Linked DNA regions of Homo sapiens: region 2 is linked to region 1. The links come from fine-mapping of genetic effects on gene expression. A gene starts in region 1. The other region holds a variant in brackets. All regions are shown on one strand. Distances are between the middles of the regions.

The links. PIP is the estimated chance that this variant, and not a neighbour inherited with it, causes the effect.
Region 2: its variant is fine-mapped to the expression of ARHGAP22 in whole blood (INTERVAL, PIP above 0.99).

Annotation. Positions count from the first base shown.
Region 1 is chr10:48,600,294-48,610,201 of GRCh38, reverse strand. It overlaps ARHGAP22 (Rho GTPase activating protein 22), which reads left to right and starts at 5,129. Exons shown (of 10, transcript NM_021226.4): 1 at 5,129-5,439. The coding sequence starts at 5,406. RefSeq lists enhancers at 1,952-2,011, 4,978-5,708 and a silencer at 4,962-5,121.
Region 2 is chr10:48,625,087-48,634,994 of GRCh38, reverse strand. It overlaps a transcript of ARHGAP22 not described here. Among named protein-coding and RNA genes, the nearest start is that of ARHGAP22, 25 kb to the right of the region's middle. The variant T/A (reference allele first, on the strand shown) is at 4,039.

The sequences.
Region 1 (9,908 bases):
CAAAGGGAGGGTATGCCATGGACTGCAGGGTGTGGGCAAAACTGAAATGAAAAGCCAAGGCAAGGGGACAGAGATGGTGGAGCCAAAGGGCGGAGACAGACTTTAGGCCCAAGGCAGCAGAGCTGAAGCCAGGAACAGTGGGTGGAGAGAAAGGCCATTCCCTCTATGACAGAGCAGCCTGCAGTGCCCAAGTGCCCAATGGCAGGAAGACCAAGGACAGGCTTACAGTACAAGCAGGGCAAGGCCACCAAAGTGGAGCAAAAGTTCACCTTTGATGAATCCCACAGTTTCCCAATTTAAAAATCTAGGAAGAATTTTTTTAATTCAGCATATGATAGGTTTCGTATATAGATGATATTTAAATTATGGGTGAGGGGGCAGGAAAAACTCGTACTCCTCTAAAGATCTCGCAACAGGCCTTGTAGAAGGTCCCCGTGGCCTTGGGCATGGAAGAAATGGGAAATGTTAAAGGTGCCGAACTCCATACAGCACTGAGTGAGGAGGTGGTGCTGGAACAAGGTCCAGAGGGATGCATCAAAGTTCAAGAGGCAAAAAAGGGCAGGCAGAGTGGAGTGTGTACCCAGTGAGAATGTCGGCTATAGTAATGAAGAGGACCAACTATGAAATGACTCAATACAGTATAAGTTAATTTCTCTTTCTCTCAAGATACTTCCAGGTTGACAGTGAGGGCTTGGCTCCATGCAGTCATTCAGAGCCCCAGACTGCAGGGATTCTACCATATTCTACATGGGAATTCCAAAGTGGTCCCATCCCAATCAACCAGAAAAGGGAAATGAGCTTAGAAGGGTAGCAAGAGAAGGAATCCTGGAAGCCAGGCCTAGAAGTAACCACATCACTTCTGCTCATGTATAATGGCCAGGATGCAGTCACACCTAACTGCAAGGATGCTGGAAATGTAGAACATCTGTGTGTTCCCAGGAAGAAGGGGAGAACAGATTCAGGTGGAGAGCTGGCATCCTCTGCCTAGAACAGGGAGTCTACAGTGACTGGGGCAGACAGAGTGAATGTGGTGGAAATGGGCCAGAGGTGTGCTGACAAATGCTTAACAACCAGCTCTGTAGAAGAAAAACAAAACAAAACAAGACATCTAAGCTCTGATTTACTGCATTTGCTAGTTTTCTTGGTGTAAATACTCCCACAACATTCAATTTCAAACTACCAGCATGATGTCATTGAACATTAGAGTTGAGAAGAGATGCATGGCAGCAACCCAGTATATATTATCCACCATGTAGAAACAATAGATGTCAATTACCTGAAGAATAATAAAATGTAGTAAAATGATTTGGAAATTATGAGTTTTTAGTGCTTGTTACCTTTGTCTTAAATAGTTTATTTAATTATAAGTTTATATACATTAATTTCTAATGATGTTCTTGCTAAACAACTGGCTTACAAAACTCCTGAAAATTTAACAATCAGTTATGTCATTGGTACTCTCCAGCTGGTCCGGCCCACTACTGGGATAGACAGAAGGAGAAACCAAAGTATGAGGGTGGGAGCTGCCCATGAAGACCTTGAGTGACATGCAAGGGAGCTGCGGCATCGACCTCCTGGCAGCAGGAACAGAGAGTGCACTAAGCAGGCAGGCTGGGGACCCAGGTGCTGGTGACCCCTGGGCAGGCATCACAAAGCCAGAGTAGCATTGTTTCTCTCCTCTGCCTCCAGAAGGGCTTACTCTGGTCCTCCATGCAGCTTCTGGAACAGGGGAAGCAGGGCTTTGCTATCTATATGTCGCCTTTGTGCAAATTAGAGGAAAGCTCCCTCCTCTAGCTGCACACCTCCCCACCTCCCTGTGCTGGAACACAGGGCTTTGCCAATGGAGCCCAAATTCAGCCTCCTTACCTCCCTCTACTGGACACCTTTGAGCAGTGCACAGACCATCCAACAGCACCTGTGGCTCTGGGTGGAGTTGTCTCAAGTTGGGGCTTGGGACAGATGCCCTTTCCACTTTCTGACCAGGAGATTTATTCGCAGATGTGCCTCTCCCTGAGAAGAATCTCCCTTAGGATGGCAGCCAGCAAACACCCCATGTGCAGTTGTCTTCTAAAGCTGTGGTTCTCAACCCTGGCTGAATCCCTAGAGGAGCTTTTACAACTCCCAATGACAATAAACACTGCAGACTAGTTAAATCAGAGCCACTGGGGGTGGGACACAGGAATTCACTGTCAGAGCTCCCTAATGTGCAGCCAAGGTTAGGAACTACTGTTTTGAAGGTATCCTGGCTCTGGGCCAGTTGATGCTGATTGGCAGCCATCCCACCAACAGGTGTGCATTTCAATAGATGCCTTCTGCCTTCCGGAGACTTCTGTCCATTCAGTGCTCAGCTTCTGTCCCTGAACAGCCCTTAGAAAATACTGAATGATTCAAGGCAGGAAGCCAGGTGAAGGCAGACCTAGGACCACTGCTGGAAAGGGGCAGCACCGTGCAGGCAGGCACAGGGCAGTGGAGAAGGAGGCATCTGTCTCCGCTGCTAAGCTAGACCTGTATCTCCCACTCCTTGGTCTGGGTGTCCCACTTATAAGTGAGAAGAGTAGGGCTGGTTCTTCAAATAAAAGCTTATAGGAGGTCACATGTTCAACAGATCCCCTTGCCCTGCCCTTGTCCCCACTCCATCCTCCCACAGGCCACCCCAGAGGAAGTGGGAGGCTCCCAGGGCCCTGCAGATCAGGGCTGGTAAACTTCAGGATGAAGGGGCTCCAATTCCTGCCTCTGTGGACCCTTCATCTCAGGAAGTACTGAGAGCACAGTCTGAGGTTGGAGAGGAGAAAAGAGCTACTTTGCCCACCTGCCCCATTCCCCCAGCCTTCTCAGACGCAGAACGTAGATCAACTCCTGCCCTTTTCCCAGCCTGACTTCTGGGGTGTGAGCCCAGCTCTGATCCCCAGAAAAGCAGGCGAGTGAACACAGTGACTTAATATCATCAGGGAAAACAGCTGCACAGGAAAAGCGCCTGGGGGTGGTTTCTTAACCAAAACAAGCGTGAGTGGACCCAGACTAAGTCTCAGGGCATTTCCTTGCCTCTGACTTGGATGAAGTGGTCCAGGCTGCATTACTCACAAATGGCTTCCTGATTGCTCAAGACATTGTCACAAGCCACAGGACTTGCCCTGTGACCCTGGTGTCGACATGAGATTTTCTAGCTTGATATTCTCCCCACTCCTCATGGGTGGCCCCTGTCCCAACCAGGGCTTGTACCTGGCCTTAAAGGAAAAGGAGGTCAGTTCTGTCATTCAGTGGTGTTTCTTGGATCTGCCCATGAAGCCAGAGTTTCCTGTGAGGCTTCTGGCCTGAGTCAGCCTGGGGCTCAGGGAGGGCGTACAAGAGGGGCAGTACAGGGACATAGATAAGGGCCCAGGGGAAGTGCTTAGTGGCTCATTCTGCTGGTGGAATCAGGAGAATTTCATTGGGGAATTGCCCAAAGAGGACAAGGCAATGTGAGGAAGGGCATTCCAGAGAGAGGGAACTGCACGTGCAAAGACACAGCTACATGTGCAAAAACACAGAGGCACAGGAGAGCAGGGGCTGCACATGCAAGAACAGGAACACACAGGAGCAAGGCATGTGCAAAGTCACTGGGGCACACAGGAGCAGGCGCTGTATGTGCATATGGTTGTATAGAGCATCGGCAAGAGATAGGTCAGAGAGGAGTCCATGGATGCTACCATGAAAGAACCTGGAATGTTATGCCAAGGTACTCATTCATCCCTCTGAGGAGTAGCTGAAGACCAGAACAAGTGACTTGATGCTGAGTAAGACAGCTTTGTGTCCATGGACTCTACCTTCTCCCACCAGCTTGGCCATGTGGCTCACCACATCCTGGTGAGTCTTTCTTCTTACTCTGCAGTCCTCCCCTCTCCATAGGGCACACTGTTCCCTAGGGAGGACTGCCACAGTGATCTCCTGGTGGGCTCTCTCCCTCTACAGCTGCTAAAGTTGATTACATACCAATAGGACACTTGGGGATCTGTGGACATGGGGCACTCGAGGGAGTGTGGAGGGTCAGATGGAGGCTATGGCCATCTGAGCAGGGGAGGGCATTGTTCAAATCCCTCTTTACCAGCTACTGAAAGGGTCACACAGTTCTCAGGCCCAAATAGCCAGACCCAAGCTCAGATGCCTAAGAGGATACACGGAGTGATTATCAGGGGCACAGAGGCAGGTCACCGTTCAGCAAGTTCATCGGGGGCTCAAGCCAGGAGCTGTTACCATGCAGTGATGGGAATAGGGTGGAGAGGCTGGCATCACAGAGCAGCAGGAGCTGTAGACACAGCCCTGGGTTCTGGTGCCCGCCCTGCTGCTCGGTACTGTATGACTTTGGGCAGGTGATTCAACCTTGCTGTGCCTTATTTTCCAGATTTGAAACGCTATATATATAGCACCTGCTTCAGGAGTTTGAGAGTTAAATGAGATATTGAATGTAAAGCACCAGCCTCAGTGCCTGACACATAGTAGGTGCCTAATAAATGATAGCTATTGTTATGATTGCATTCCTTGGGTAATTTTTAGCATCTTGAGGCTGGATTCCGCTCCTCACAAAGCCCCAGTATACACCCTTTAAAATTATGCCAGCATCAAACAGAAACATGGCAATTAGCAGAGATTCACTATTCAATTCAGATCTTCCTATGAAGAGCCCTGAGTTAAGTGCTTCCTGCCCTCTTATTCCTGTCACCTTACTAAAGAGGCATAAATAGTATCCCTAACAGGCATCTTCCTGTTGGGAGTCTCCTGAGGAGTTTACATTGCCGGGCTGCTTGCTCCTTCCCAGACACACCTGACTTTCAACACGTAAAACAGTGAGCTCATAAGCGGGTCCCCGTGGATTGGGCTCTGGGGTGGGGGGGGGGTCTCGGCTACCTTCTCACCAAAGCGCTATCCCACCCGGGCTTGGCAGGGAGTGCGGCTCCCAGGCGGCGGCTGAAAGGCGCATTTCTTCCAGCCTCAGCAAAGGATGGCCGGAACCCCAGTACCCTCTCCCGGGCCAGGACCGCGCCCCGCGTCTCTGGCTGGCCCCGCCCCTCTCGGCCCCGCCCCGCCCCCGCGCTCAGCTTGGACAGCCACGCGTGCGCCCAGGCCAGGCGGAGGGACTGCCCCGCCCTGGTCCAGTGATTGATCAGCAGTGATTACTGAGGCTTTAATGGTCCGCTTGGATGGGAATTAATTCTGGGATGGATAAATAATGCATCGAGGTTTATGTAGTCCAAGGCGAGCCGTCCGTCCGGAGCCAGGAGAGGTAGCCGAGGGAGCCTGACGGGTGACGCCAGCGGCCACGGGGCCCCGAACGAGCAGGACATGAGGGGCGACTAGGCGCGAGGACGAGCAAAAGCAAGTGGATGACAGCATGAACGGCCCTGCGGGGCTGGCCGGACGGCTGCAAGAACATGCTGAGCCCAAAGATCAGGCAGGCCAGGAGGGGTAAGTCCAACTTTCTGGGGTTTCTCTGGGCACCGCATGTGCCTCTTGGCAAACGTGCGCGGACACTTGGCCAGCCGTCACGCCATGTGTCACATGGGGCGGGCGTTCTGGGACCATTGCCGCTGAATAGTGAGCATCCTCCTGAGGAAGTGCCCTTCCTCGTGAAACTCCTGGGCTGGGTGGGGACACGACCTGAAGTTGCAAAAGGGCGGTGGCCGGCTTAGTGCCCCAGTGGGTGTGCACACTTCGCCCCACATTCCACATTTTACAGAGGCCCTCGGTCGCTCCAGGTGACCTGGTGGCAACTTTAAGGAAACTTTGCTTCTTTACTAAAAAGGAAATGCCCAAGATTTGCCCTGTGGCCAACACAGAAGCACCCCTTACCAGGGAAGGCCATGCCCTGGCTTCTAGAGACAGCTGGGTGCAAGCGAGGGTCTTCGTTCCCGCTGCTTTGCAGACAGTATTTCCTCAAGCAGGCCAGGGGCAGGCAGGCTTTCCTGCCAGAACACTCAGAAAGCTGCAGGGTCTGGGGGCAGGACGGGTGGATGCGGGAGCAGACTCAGACCAGCAAGAGATGGGGGTCAGGAGAGTCCAGGACTGGGCTAGCCAGCCTGTGTCCAGCCAGCGACCCAGCACAGTGACCTGAAGACTTGGCCACTGTATGGGGCTAGAGACAGCATCTCCATGGACAACAACTTCTTAGCCACGGAAAGTGTCATTTTGAATGAGAACATCTGTCTTTTACAAAAATAGAATGTGTCTTTTCAGGTGGCCAGTATCTGGGAGGGCTGAGCTCCTTTTGTAAACAATGAAGTGGAGGATGGGTCTTTGGAGGTGGATGGAGCATTTGCCTGGGAGCTTGGAAACAGTTTGTGTCTCACCAGGTGTTTGCAGCGGGGGGCCTCCAGCCTCCTGTGGATTCACAGGGAACACACCCATCTTATTAGCACACTGCAAGCACTTGGATGATTTTCCTGGATGGGACCAGCCTTCCAGTGTGTTCCACAGACGTCAGGACCCCTCTGTGGGGTGCTTTCGCATGGGCTGAACCCTGTGTACCCCAATGGGCAAAGGAGGAACTTGCATGGCTCTGCTGAGGAGGGGGCAAGTCTAGTGATGACCCAAGGGATAGGACAAGCCAGATACCTCTGCGAGAGCTTAGTTCCACCCTCCCACTCCTGTGTAATGAGCTGGCCACTGGCCACATGTGGCTACTAAGCACTTGGCATGTCACTAGTCCAAATTGAGAAAAAGACACACCAAATTTTGATGATTTAGTACAAAAAAAGAATGTACAATATCTCATTAATAATTATTTTACTGAAATGACAGTATTTTGGATATATTGGGTTAAATAAAATCTATTATTAAAACTAATTTTACCTGTTTTACATTCTTTTACTATAGCTACTAGAACATTTACAAGTACATATGTGACTCATATTATATTTTTTATATTTCTATTGGACAGTGCTAGTAAGAGACCAGTGCTTCAGCAAAGGGGCTTACAGGCAGCCTGTCTTTGAAATCCAGGATTTCTCATAAATGTTTGTTTTAAGTCAATGGTTCTCAACCAGGAGCAATTTGCCCCACTAGAGAACATTTGGCATTGTTTGGAGTATTTTTGGTTATTCCAACTGAGGGGTGCTACTGGCATCTAGTGCGTATAGGCCAGCCATACAGCCCTCTTCCAGTCCTCAGTGTTCCATGAGGCTTCCACCATAGGGCTTTTGCACATCGTTCTTTCCCCTGAAATGCCTCCCACATTCACATGTGCGCACATGCATGCCTGTATGTGTGTGCACATGCGTTCATGCATACAAACATACACACACACCTTAATTCCTATTCACCCTCCAGTTATAGTATAGTTCAAGTGTTGCCAGCCAGGGAAGTCTTCCCACACACCCCAGTCCAGGCTGGATCCTCTGCTCCATCTCTCCTTTTCTTTATGGTATTTACCATAGGTTGCAGTTGTATACTCCTGAGTGTGACTGATTGGTGAATATCTGTCACTTGCATTGCTCCATGAGCTTCGTGAAAGCAGGAACCATTTCTGTTCGGGGACATCATTATACCCCCAATGCCAGGTACCTGGTGGACACTCAACCTGTGTTTTTTGAGTGAGTGGATGAATAGCTGGATAGAGGAGAAAGCATTTGCCTGGGTGGCTGGAGCACTGTCTCTACCCAAGCTGGCCCGGTACTTAGGAAATTTGGCCTCATCTTTCACTGACTCATATGTTGCAAATATTTTCCCAATTTGTTGCTTGCCCTTTATTTTTATATTAGAGTGGGTTTTTTTTCTAGATGTACCTGTTTTTAACTCGTATATATTTTCCTTTTAGAATTTCTGTCTTTGTTTGCAATATTTCAAAATAAAATTGTTGATGCTATTAAGGAGGCTCCTTCTTTTAAAGGAAATCATCAGACTGATGGGCCAAGTTATAGGAGCTTTAACCATCTCCTGTAGCAGGAGTGTCAATGTCTCAGGAGCCTTGATGAATGTTCAGAGCCTGGTCAATACTTTGGGGGTGGGGAGAGAAAGCTCTATTAATATGATGAAGTACCTTCAATGGCCTTATTCTTGTGATTGTCCCACAAGAAAGTAAACCAACATTTATTGTGCACCCATGCTCCAGGCACTTTTGTTGTACCTCATTTAATTCTCATGACTACACTATAATGTGATATCATTGTTACCATTTTGACAGATGTAGAAGAATCATGGTCGCCCAGCCAATAAATGTGGGATCTAAATTTGTCTGTCCAATGCTAAGGCCTCTGCCTTCTCTCTAACCCAACACTATCTGAAGACCTCTGCACCTGGCCCTGTACATCTCCATGAGAGCTGTAGATTATTTCAGTGATAAAATGCAATGATATTTTTAAGAAGGTGCATCTAAACACATGGAGATTAGATCTAGACAACTCATAGAATGTTTGAGGTTGGATTATTGATACCTAGCAGAAAACTAAGCAAATAAAAAACAAGGCAATTATGAACTCCACAGAAAACAAAAGTGATTCATGAAAGAAAAATTATTATCATATATAACATACCTCAAGTGGGACTAGCAATTAAACGGTGCTAATAATGGAAATTCTGTTGTTAATCTAACCAAAATTTTAATATAACTAATTGGGAGGGTGGAGTGGGTGCTTATGGATGGTGGGGGGAAAGGGTGTAAAAGAAACAAAATCTTCATCTTCTATAGTAAGAAGTTAATAAATAACACTTAAAAGGAAAAAATCAAGAAGTGGTAATAAATAAATACTATCTGGAAACATAGAAGTAATACCAAAAGAACCAATGACAAATGTTGAAAGTGGCTGCCTCTGTGGGGTGGGGAATGGAAGTAAAGGGATAGGACACTCCTGGGTTTTGCCCCAAGGCTGCAGGACTACTTGAAAAGTGGTTAGGGAATCACAGCCCAGAGGTCAACTGACCTCATACCTGCTCAGACTGGGGGATCCTTCAGAGCCCTGGAAGATTCTGCCCTTCAGGGACACTCATAGGGTTAGCAGGCCTCCTGGGATTGCTTAGTTATGAATGTTGTGGCTCCCAGGATGTGCCCTTGGCGATGCTGTGATGCCCCTGCCCAGGTTTGTCAGGTACCATGATGGCTCCCTATGACTCTCACCACCTTCATGGCTCTGAGAGTGAAGCAGCTAAGGAACAGTCACCTAATTAGGTGACACAGCATCTGGCTTTGCCTGATTCAGAGAGAGGACAGAGGTCTAGCAGAATGGTCAGTAAGATATGCTGAAGAAGGGGCGTATTAGAACTGCTCATGGAAGGGTGCATCCAGGCTGTGGGCTGGAGCTTAGCCAGGGACTAGAGGCCTCAGAAGAGCCTGCTCTGGAGAAGGAGGACCAAAGGGAATCACCCAGCAGTCTCTACTTCCAGGCCAGGCCCTGGCACCACTGTTTGTAGCTGATAACCTTCCGTGACAGCAGAGGTGCCCAAGCCTGGACATCCTCTGCCACTAGCCAGGTACTCCACCCCATGGAGAGAACCAAGCTGTCTCTTGTCAGTCCATTCTAAAAATTTGCTCAGAAGTGAAATGAAGTTGCAGAGGCCCTCAGATCAGCAAAGGGTCCAGGACAAACCCTGGGGAACCTGATTCGAGGAAATAAAAGTTTGCAATTTGGGGATCTTTGAACAAGAGTGGCCTCAAATCACACTGCAGCCTGATTTTTTTTTTTTTTGAATACTCCTCTGGGATTTTCATTGTTTATTTCTAAAATTTTTAACATTTTCTTATTGAGGCATAATTTACAGAGTAAAATGCACAAATCTTAAGTGTTCTCTCAGTGACCAGCCTGAAGATCAAGATATAAAGCATTTTCCTTAAGCCCAGAAAGTTTTCTCCTGTGTCTTCCCAGTCACCCTGGCTCGTCTCCCAACCAGAGTGACACTTTTCTGATTTCTAGCACCCTAGAGTGATCTCACCTATTCTTCAATTT
Region 2 (9,908 bases), 25 kb before region 1:
GAAGTCTAAGATCAATGTGTTAGCAAGCTTCTTTCTCCTCTCTCCTTGGCTTGTAAATATCACCTTCTTCCTGTGTCTTCACACAGTTGGTATCTGTGTCCTTATCTCCTCTGCTTATAAGAACTCTAGTCATATTGGACTAGGGCCCACCCTAATGACCTCATTTTAACTTAATCACTCATTTTAACTTTGATATTTAAAGGCCCTATCTCCAAATACAGCCACTTTCTGTATGGGGCGGTGGGGGTTAGGCTTCATCATGAACTGGAGTCGGGGGACACAATTCAGCCCTCTTGCTTTCCTGGGCTCAGAGCTGTCAGCCCTGAGAAGCAGAGGAGAGTCTATTCCAAAGAACAGGCTGGGCAGAGCCTCAGAGAGTGTCTAGACAGATGCCCTGCCAGCCACACTACCCTCTAGGGAGCCAAGCGGAAGCCCAGGCTCACCCACCCCCAGCCACAGAACCAAATAAGGGCTGAGTCAGCGGCTCTTCTTAGAGACCCAGTTTCCTACAATGGTTTCTGTTTCTGCACATCTGGGAGAAATGATTTGACTCTGGGAATGGTTGTGAAATGGGCAAACCACAGTGCAGGCTCACCGCCCTCTGCACCCAGCAGCTTATCCTCTCCTATGGCCCAGCTCTGTGGGGGCAGAGCACTTTTCCCTGTTGGCTAGATGAGGAAGCAGAAGATCTGAAGTTTACTGACTTGCCAAAAGCTCACAGCTAGTTAGTGGCAGACAGGACTCAACCCAGATCTGAGCTGACCCATCTTTAGTGCTCACTCACAGCAGTACCTCTGCTTTTAGGGACATTGATGGCACCTTTTGGCTGCTCCCATCAAATCCGCCACCCAAATCTGAAAGTACCCATTCAGCTACCCATGATACTACTGAGCTACTAGTGCAAACTGGCTTCTCTCAACAGGTGAGCTGGCTAGCAGATAACACTTCCTGCCAGTTATCATAGAAACAAGCGTGGGAGGAAGCAGCATCCTGGTGGCCAGGAAGAAGGTGAGGGAGAACATAGGGCATAGATGCCCATGGTGTCAACTCTCAGACACCTGCCCCAGAGATTTCCAGGAGTCAGGGCATCCCGCAGCCAGCTTGGCCCAGCATTCAGTTAGGAAAGGCTCTCCCTCCTCCCATGCCCAGCCCTCTGCTCCCTCCTCCTCTTAGCCCCGTGGAATGATCCTGTCTCTATTAACCTGCCCATCTCCTTCTGCAGATGGATGTCAACAGGGATTTTCTTGTGGAAAGTCCACAGGGAAAGCCAGCCCTCCCTCCCTGCTGCTGGCATCATTTTCCCACAAAATGTAAAAACAGTCTAGAGAAAGCCAGGCCTGGGTGTGGATCCAGGTTCTACCACCTGCTTACTCTATGCCCTTACTCAAGTGATATAATCTCTCTGCTTCATTTCCTCATTGTAAAAGTGAGACCACAATAGGCCATATCTCACAAGACTGTAATAAGGATTACATGTCTAATTAAAAGAAAAGAGTTCAAGGAAAGGCACAGGGTAAACCCTGAATAAGTGGGAACTCCCTTCCAGACAAACAATCAGATGCCACTGTTAATCTCTGGCTGAGAATTGTTTCCTTTGGGAATTTTTTGAAAACCAAGTGATATGATGGAGACTCTGGACACAGGAACCCTACATTTGGAGCTTTCTCCCAGTTTTACTTCTCCAGCATGCAGTCACTGCAAACCTCAGACCTGGGAGTCTCAGAGGAAGGTAGATTGTCTGCAGAAATGAGAGCTGACTGGGGCCATTAAAGGTGGACAGGCCTGGGAAATGATCTCAAAAGTTTCCTAAGGGTTGATAATTTATTCAGTCACCCAGCAAACATGAGTTGTGCCAGGCACTGCTCTAGGCACTGGAATACAGCAGGCAACATAATTGGCAAAAACTCTTACCTTCTGGAGCTCATGCTCTTCTCATATCATCCAATGGAAAGGCCTGAGGGAACTGTCCACTGATGTCCTCCGTGTGGCAGGTGATGTCCTCTGGCAGGTGACTCAGGATCTTCCAGGGGTAGATGAAGGAAAAGAATAGTCAGCGTTGTGCAGTAGTGATGAAAATGGAAAGACTCTGGCTTCTGGTTTCATCTTTGACATGTGAAAAGCTTAGACATTTTCACTCTCATCCTTACAACAAGGTAAAATCTGTGCAAACTTAAAATCAATGATTTCGCTCTGGCATCTGCAGACACAGCAAATATTAAAGACGGCACAGCTCCTAGCCTGGGTGGTTTTGGGAACACCCCCCAATTTGCAGTTGGTGTTGGAAGTGAGGCTGGTCTTGTGAAGACCTGTGTGCACTCTAAACTTGGAGTTGGCCAACTCCAGGCAGTGACAGAAAACAAACCACAGACCTAAGCAGGATAAAAACAAAAAATATACACATCTTAGGTGTCTCACATTCAAAATGCAGAAAACAAAAGACAGAGAAAATCTTGAAAGAAGCCAGGGGTATGGGGATCACCTTTCCTTTAGAAGAACAAGGATAGGAATTATATCAGACTTCACAACAGAAGTCATGCAAGCAAGTGGAGAGTGAAGGGAAATATTTCAACTGTTGAAAAAAAAATATGTTGAATAGTTTGTACATTAAAACTGCTGCAATAAAACTCCCTACCAACATAGGATTGCATAACTACTGGAATTTTTCTTCAAAAGTGAAGGCTAATAGAAAGGAATGAAATAATGTCTTTTGCAGCAACTTGGATGGAGCTGGAGGCCATTATTCTAAGTGAAGTAACTCAGGAATGGAAAAGCAAATATCATATGTTCTCACTTGTAAGTGGGAGCTAAGTTATGAGGATGCAAAGGCGTAAGAATTATATAATGGACTTTGAGGACTCGTGGGGAAGGTTGGGAGGAGGTTGAGGGACCAAAGACTACATATTGGGTACAGTGTACACTGCTCGAGTGACAGGTGCACTGAAATCTCAGAATTCCCCACTATAGAATTCATCCATGTAACCAAAACCACCTGTACCCCAAAAGTATTGAAATAGAAAAATAATTTTCATTGTAAAAAAAAGTGAGACTAAATAAAGACTTTCCCAGACAAACAAAAACCAAGAGTATTCATTGCTTGTCCTACAAGAAATGTTAAAAGAGAGAAAGAAAATGATGGGTGAGAAACTCAGATCTACATAAAGAAAGAGCATCAGAGAAGGAATAAATGAAAGTAAAACAAAGTCTTCATTTTTCTCATGCTTAATGGATCTAACAGGTAACTGTTTGTCCAAGTAACAATAGCAACAATATGTAGGGTGATTATAACACGTAGATAACCAAAGTGAATGTCAGTAATATTATAAGGAACAGGATGGAGGAACTGGGAATACTGATATAAGGAACCTGTACTATTTTTTAAGTAGTAGTGTTATTTGAGAGTGGACTCAGATTAGCTGTAAATATATATTGCAAAATCTACTGCAACAAGAAAATATTTTTAAGAAGTATAATTGATATCCCAAGGAGAAATATATCATTTTAATTGGCTTATAACTATTAAAGAAGTTAAATAAATGACAATTTTCCAACAAAGTAAGCACTAGTTCTCAAATGGTTTCACTGGTGTATTCTACCAAACACTTAAGGAAGAAATTAGATAAATTCTCTACAGTATCTTCCAGAATATAAAAATGGAGGTAACAGTTTCTAACTCATTCTGTGAGGCTAACAGCACCCTAATACCCAAACCAGATAAAGACAAGAAAGAAAAGCTACACATCAGTATCTTTTATGAATATAGATGTAAACAAGTCCTTAATGAAATATTAGCAAATTGAATCCAATAATGTATAAAAAGAATTATATACCACAACCAAGTGGAGTTTATTCCAGATATGGAAGGCTGATTGAACACTCAAAAAACTATTATGTGGTAGTTAATATGTGATAAACAATGTGGTAACCCACCACATCAACAGGCTAAAGAAGAAAAATCATATGATCATATGAATTAATGCAGAAAAAACATTTGACAAAATCCAACACTCATTCATGATAAAAACTTTTAGCAAACTAGAA[T/A]TAGAGGTAACTTCCTCAACTTGATAAAGGACATCCACAAAAACCCTACAGCAAAATGTATACTTAATTGTGAGAAACTAGATGTTCTCCCACTATGTTGGGAACAAGGCAATTCACCACACTTATTCAACATTGTACTGGAAGTCCTAGCAAATGCAGTAAGACAAGAGAAGGAAGCCATATATATACAGAATGGAGGAAGAAATAAAATTGCCTTTTTTCACAGAAGACAGGATTGTCTATGCAGAAAATTCCATAAAATTGATGGAAAAAACTCTTGCAACTTATAAGTGATTATAGCAAGTCACAGGATATAAGGTTAATATCCAAAAGTCAATGCCTTTTTTATATCAACAATGAACAGCTGGAATTTGAAAATAAAAGCACGATACCATTTACATTAGCATAAAAATGAAATACCTATAAATCTAACAGAATATGTACATAATCTTTATGCAGAAAAGTATAAAACTCTTGATTAATGAAATCTAAGAAAATCGAAATAAATGGAGAGATGTTCCGCTGTCATGGATTAGAAGACTCAATATTGTTAAGATGTCATTTCTGGGCTGGGCGTGGTGGCTCATTCCTGTAATCCCAGCGCTTTGGGAGGCTGAGGTGGGTGGATCACCAAGTCAAGAGATCGAGAACATCCCGGCCAACATGGTGAAACCCCATCTCTATTAAAAATACAAAAATTAGCCGAGCGAGGTGGCGGGGGCCTGTAGTCCCAGCTAGTCAGGAGGCTGAGGCAGGAGAATCACTTGAACCAGGGAGGTGGAGGTTGCAGTGAGCTGAGATAGCGCCACTGCACTCCAGCCTGGTGACAGAGCAAGACTCCGTCTGAAAAAAGAAAAAAAAGTCACTTCTTTCTAACTTGGTATATAGACTCAGTACAATCCCAATCAAACTCCTAGCAAGCTATTTTTTGCTTTTCCATACACCAGCAATGAACAATTGAAAGTTGAAATTAATTTTTTTCAAATCTGTCATTTAAAATAGCACCAAAAGAATGAAATATTTAGTTATAAAATTAACAAAACAGGCATAGGATCTATTGCAGAAAACCACAAAACATTGATGGAAAAAAATCAGAGATTGAAATAAATGGAGAGCTGTTCTGTGTTTGCGGATTGGAAGACTCCATATTATTTAAATGTCAATTGTTCCCAAATTGATCTATATAGATTCAGTGAATTCTCAATCAAAATCCTAGCAAGCTATTTTATAGGTATTGGCACACTGATTCTAAAATTTATATGGAAAGGCAAAACATCTAGAATAACCAACACAGAAATGAAGGAAGCATGCAACCTAAATTCAAGACTTACTCTAAAATAAACATGTAAACAAAACATGGTGATATGAGCAAAATGATAGACACGTGGATGAATGGAATCAAATAGAGAAATAGAAATAGACCCACACAAATGTAGCTAACTGACCTTTGATGAGAGCCAAGGTAATTCAATGGAGAAAGGATAGGCCTTACACTTTTTACAAAAATCAACTCAAAATGGATGGTAGACCTAAATACAAAAATACAAAATATGAAGTTTCTAGAAGAAAACAGGAAAAAATCTAGAAAACCTTGGGATTGACACCCATGGAGAGGGCAGGAAGCAGGACTGAGCAAAAGGCAAAATCAGACTGCAATGCAGGCACAACAGCAGCCTCAGTAGACTCCATACTTAGCTCTGAGGGTTAGCTGGGCTTTCCAGGCTGTCCTAAGTTGGGGCAAGAAGACCAGGCCTCTATGCCCCCATAATGACCAGCCATTGGTGGTGGCTGCCCCTAGGAAGGTAGTGTGTCTCTGAGAAATTCCCAGTGGAGGCAAAGGCTGAAAGGGCTGGGTGTTAGCAGCTGGGAGCTAGTCCTGGGCCATCTGGGAAGCACAACAGAGCCCATTCCAGGTGTCTCTAGATTTTTACTGTTACACATAATGCTGTGAATGCACCTTTCCCTGCAAGATAAACTCCAAGGAGCAGACACATTGGTCAGGGTTGTGCACTGTGTTCTTCCCTTAGTCACAGCAGTGGCCACCACTGCACCTTGAGGGTGGTGGCCTCTCTCAGCTCAGACTCCCCAGGTTGATGGATGGGAAGGCAAGCTTTGCTCCTCTTACTGCAAGATATGTCACTGTGGCCCCATGTCCTATGTGCACCAAAGATGATGACTCCAAGGGGCCACCTGGGGAATGGGAAGGTGTTTAGGTCCATTTTGTGATGAAATCCTATTGGTTTAATATACTTTGACTATATTGTCAAGGCCATGACTCGATAACTTGCAAAAAGTTCATATGCTTTAAATTTGCTAACAGGAGTCACCAGGCGGAATCAAATGCCTTGAAAGCAGATTTCTGGACCTATGGAGTGGTTTGGAGCCTCAAGGTGGTAGGGTAGAGCCAACAGAACAGGCAGTCAACTCCATCATACAAGCAGCATATGGTGGACATCTGTGCCCACATCCTTGCTATGGAAACAGACAGGAGCCACCTGGTGTTACTCAACCCAGCAGACTTAGCCATCTGCTAGCCAGTGACCTTGCACACACTGGCTCTGAGCCTCACTTTTCTCTTAAAATAAGAATTATCAAGACATCTTTGGGTGGCCATATGTGTGAATCAAGATACTGGGGCCTGGTGTGTGGTAGGTGCCTGGTAGATGCTCAGCAAATGTTAACTGCTAAAACAAGGACTGTAACATCTGCACTAATGGTAGACCTGCCACCAGGCACAGCATGCTCCTGGCCACATCAGGGCTGGTTCTGAGACTGCGTGAGTGCAGAACTGGAAGGCAGGGCCATCCTGAACAGAGGGTGGCCAGTCAGACACCCTGAGGACTCCCAAGATAGACTCACTCACCCACTGCAAGGAAGAGAAGGAGGCCAGATGTCTGTCCCTGTGATGCCAGCTGTGGCCATTGCCCTCCTTTCTTTGAGTCTCAGAGCACTGTGTTAATACGTTTTACTTGGGACTGATACTTCAAGCAACTCTTGTGCAGGGTAAGGAACCAAAGTATAGATAGTACCTTTCTACAAATCACAAAGATGCCCCTTCCTCTGGGCTAAGCCAGCCTCACACCAGACCCCATAGCTTGTCCAATAGAGCACCTGGTGGCCTGAATGAAGTGCCCACACACCTCAGCCAGCCACACCAGAGGCCGGGCCCAAAGTGACCCTCATCCAGGGGCCCTGAGAATGCATGCCTCACATTATCAGTTGGGATCTTTCATAAAGCCCTTGGAATATCAGAGGAGACTGAAATTCGAAACTAAAACTTGACCAGAAGAGCAAGATGCTGTGGGCATGAGCCAAGCTTCCCAGTGGCCTGCCCTGTGCAGCCCTGTGTCCCCACTCAGTGTGGAGCGCCGGCTCTCTCCCAAACCCTGTCCTGGCTGCTAGCCCAGATGGGAATGGGACAGGCCCTGCCCACCATGCCTTGAACCTAGAGTGAGTACAGACATCCTTGGACACCTGTCTTGCCCTCTCTGATTCTCCAATACCAGCTGGGTGTCCAACAGTTCAATTCAATTCAATTCATTTCAATTCTGACATTAGCTCTCCAGAGCTAGTGCAGACCACACTGGTTAGGGCTCCGTCCCACAAGACCTCCCCGACTTCAGATGAAAATGGGTGCCCAGGCCATCCACACTCCGTCCTACTTGGCTATGCATTAATAGATTCCTGCAACCCCTCCTCAGGTTTGATAATTCACTAGAATGACTCACAAAACTCAGGAAAACACTACTGACATTTGCAGGTTAATGACAAAGAACACAACTCAGGACAGCCTGCTGCAGGAAATGCGTAGGGCCAGGGAAGAGGGAGGGGCATGGAGCTTCCATGCACTCTTCATGCACAACCCGCTCCCAGAACCTCCATGTGTTCACCAACCCGGAAGCTCCCTGAACCCCATCATTTAGGGGTTTTTATGGAGGCTTCGTTACGTGGGCATGATTAATCAAATCATTGGTCATTGGTGATTGGACTCAATCTCCAGTTCCTCTCTCCTTCCTGGAGGTCAAGGATAGGGCTGAAACTTGTAACCCTCTAATCACATGGCTGGTTCACCCCCATGCCCAGCCAGTTCCCACTCTCCCACAGTCACCTCCTTAACCTTGCCTCAGGTGCCTTTGAAAGGGGCTTTCTCTGAATAACCAAAAATGCTCCCCTCACTTCTGTTACTCAGGAAATTCCCAGGGTTTTAGGAGCTCATGCCTGGTACAAATATCAAATATCTAGTTCCCATCGTACCACACCCTCCACATGAGTGTCCTGGGGACAGGCGGCTCTGTCTCCTGCGAGGGCACATTCCACAGGGCTGGATATTGGGCTTCATGCAGAGTTTGTTATTAGCAAATGCACATGGAGGGAAAGGGTTGAATATCTGCCAGGATATTCAGGAAGTTCCGAATGTGCCATGGGTCTGGAACAGTGGCCAGAGCTTCAATTCTGAAGGCAAATGCTTAACAAATATCAATGTAGCACCTCCTAGCAGCCACCATTAACAGCTTACTGGATTTCAGCACCATCTAGAAGCTCCATCTGTTTTTCACAAGTTTTCACAAAGACACTGAGGGGTAGATGTCCTTGGTCCTGATGAGGTCCCCAAGATTAAGACCCTGGGGACATCAGAATTCACAATTCACACTCAGCATGTTTCTTGACAACACCTCTCCAGTTTCCATGCCGGGCTCCTGGTCTGGAATCAGGACAAGAAAAAGACAAAATCAAGAAAGCCCCCTGGGTGAGTCTCTCTTATAATTGGCTCTGATTTAGGGGTGGGATAGGGTTAGTGTAAGAAACCAGCATAATATCAAGGCTTCAAATAGTATGCTAGTATCCACGCTGCTGGGCCAAAAATGGGGTTGATGGGACCACATGTCTCTCATGGAGACTTTTACAGTCAGTCTACCAAAGAAGGGACATGGCTGCTTTTGAGAACTGGATGTTGATTTGCCCAGGTCTCTCTTGGGACTAGATATGCTGGTGGTGAGCTGAGCATTTGGGGAAGCACTTTCTGTTCTAGGTGACAATGGTGTCATAGGGCTAAGTCCTGTGCACATATAAACACACTCCTTTGCTAGGGTCCTGGGATGGCTGGGTTTGGATATGTGTGGAGCAGAGATCATCCCTGGAAGCATGGAAGCTGAGGCACATTCAGATCTTCCCTCCTCTGAGTTTGACCTGACCCAGAAGGAAAGCCCAGCAAAGCAGGTGTGTGTGTGTGTGTGTGTGTGTGTGTGTGTGTGTGTGTGTGTGTACACGTTGCAGGGAGGCCCTTCCTTTGCAAAAAGGGGCAATGTGAGCACGGTCTGGTCTAGCTCCTGCTAGAATCAGACATCCTTAAACAGAAGAAAAGTGTTTCAGGGTGAAAATGCAAAATAACGGCACTGGAAGGCATGGCTCTTCACTTGAGTGTATTGCAAATATCAAGCACATGTTTTTAAAGCTGGTCATGAACTGCAACGCAGCATAATGGGGCAGCCTTATGCATGATTAGGGTGGAAGTCCTAGAGCACCTTACAGACCTGAATTCAAATCATCACCCCTCCCAAACTCTCTGTGGGACTCCAGCCCCTCAGCTAGACAAGGGGGTCACGATCACATCTAACTCTGAGAGCTGTTTGAGCTAAGATACTTATAAGAGTTCCCTGGCACACAGTCTCTGTTCCATAAATGTGATTTGATAAACAACATAAATATTCATCCCTGCTGTTAAGGGATGAGTCAAGGGAAGGGAGCTCATGATCTGGGACTTCCTCTATGACCTCACTATGAGGTAGGTATTGTTGTCCCTATTTTCCATATGAGGAAGCAGAGGCTCAGAGAAGACAAGAGACTGGCCCAAGTTCATGGAGCCAGTGAAC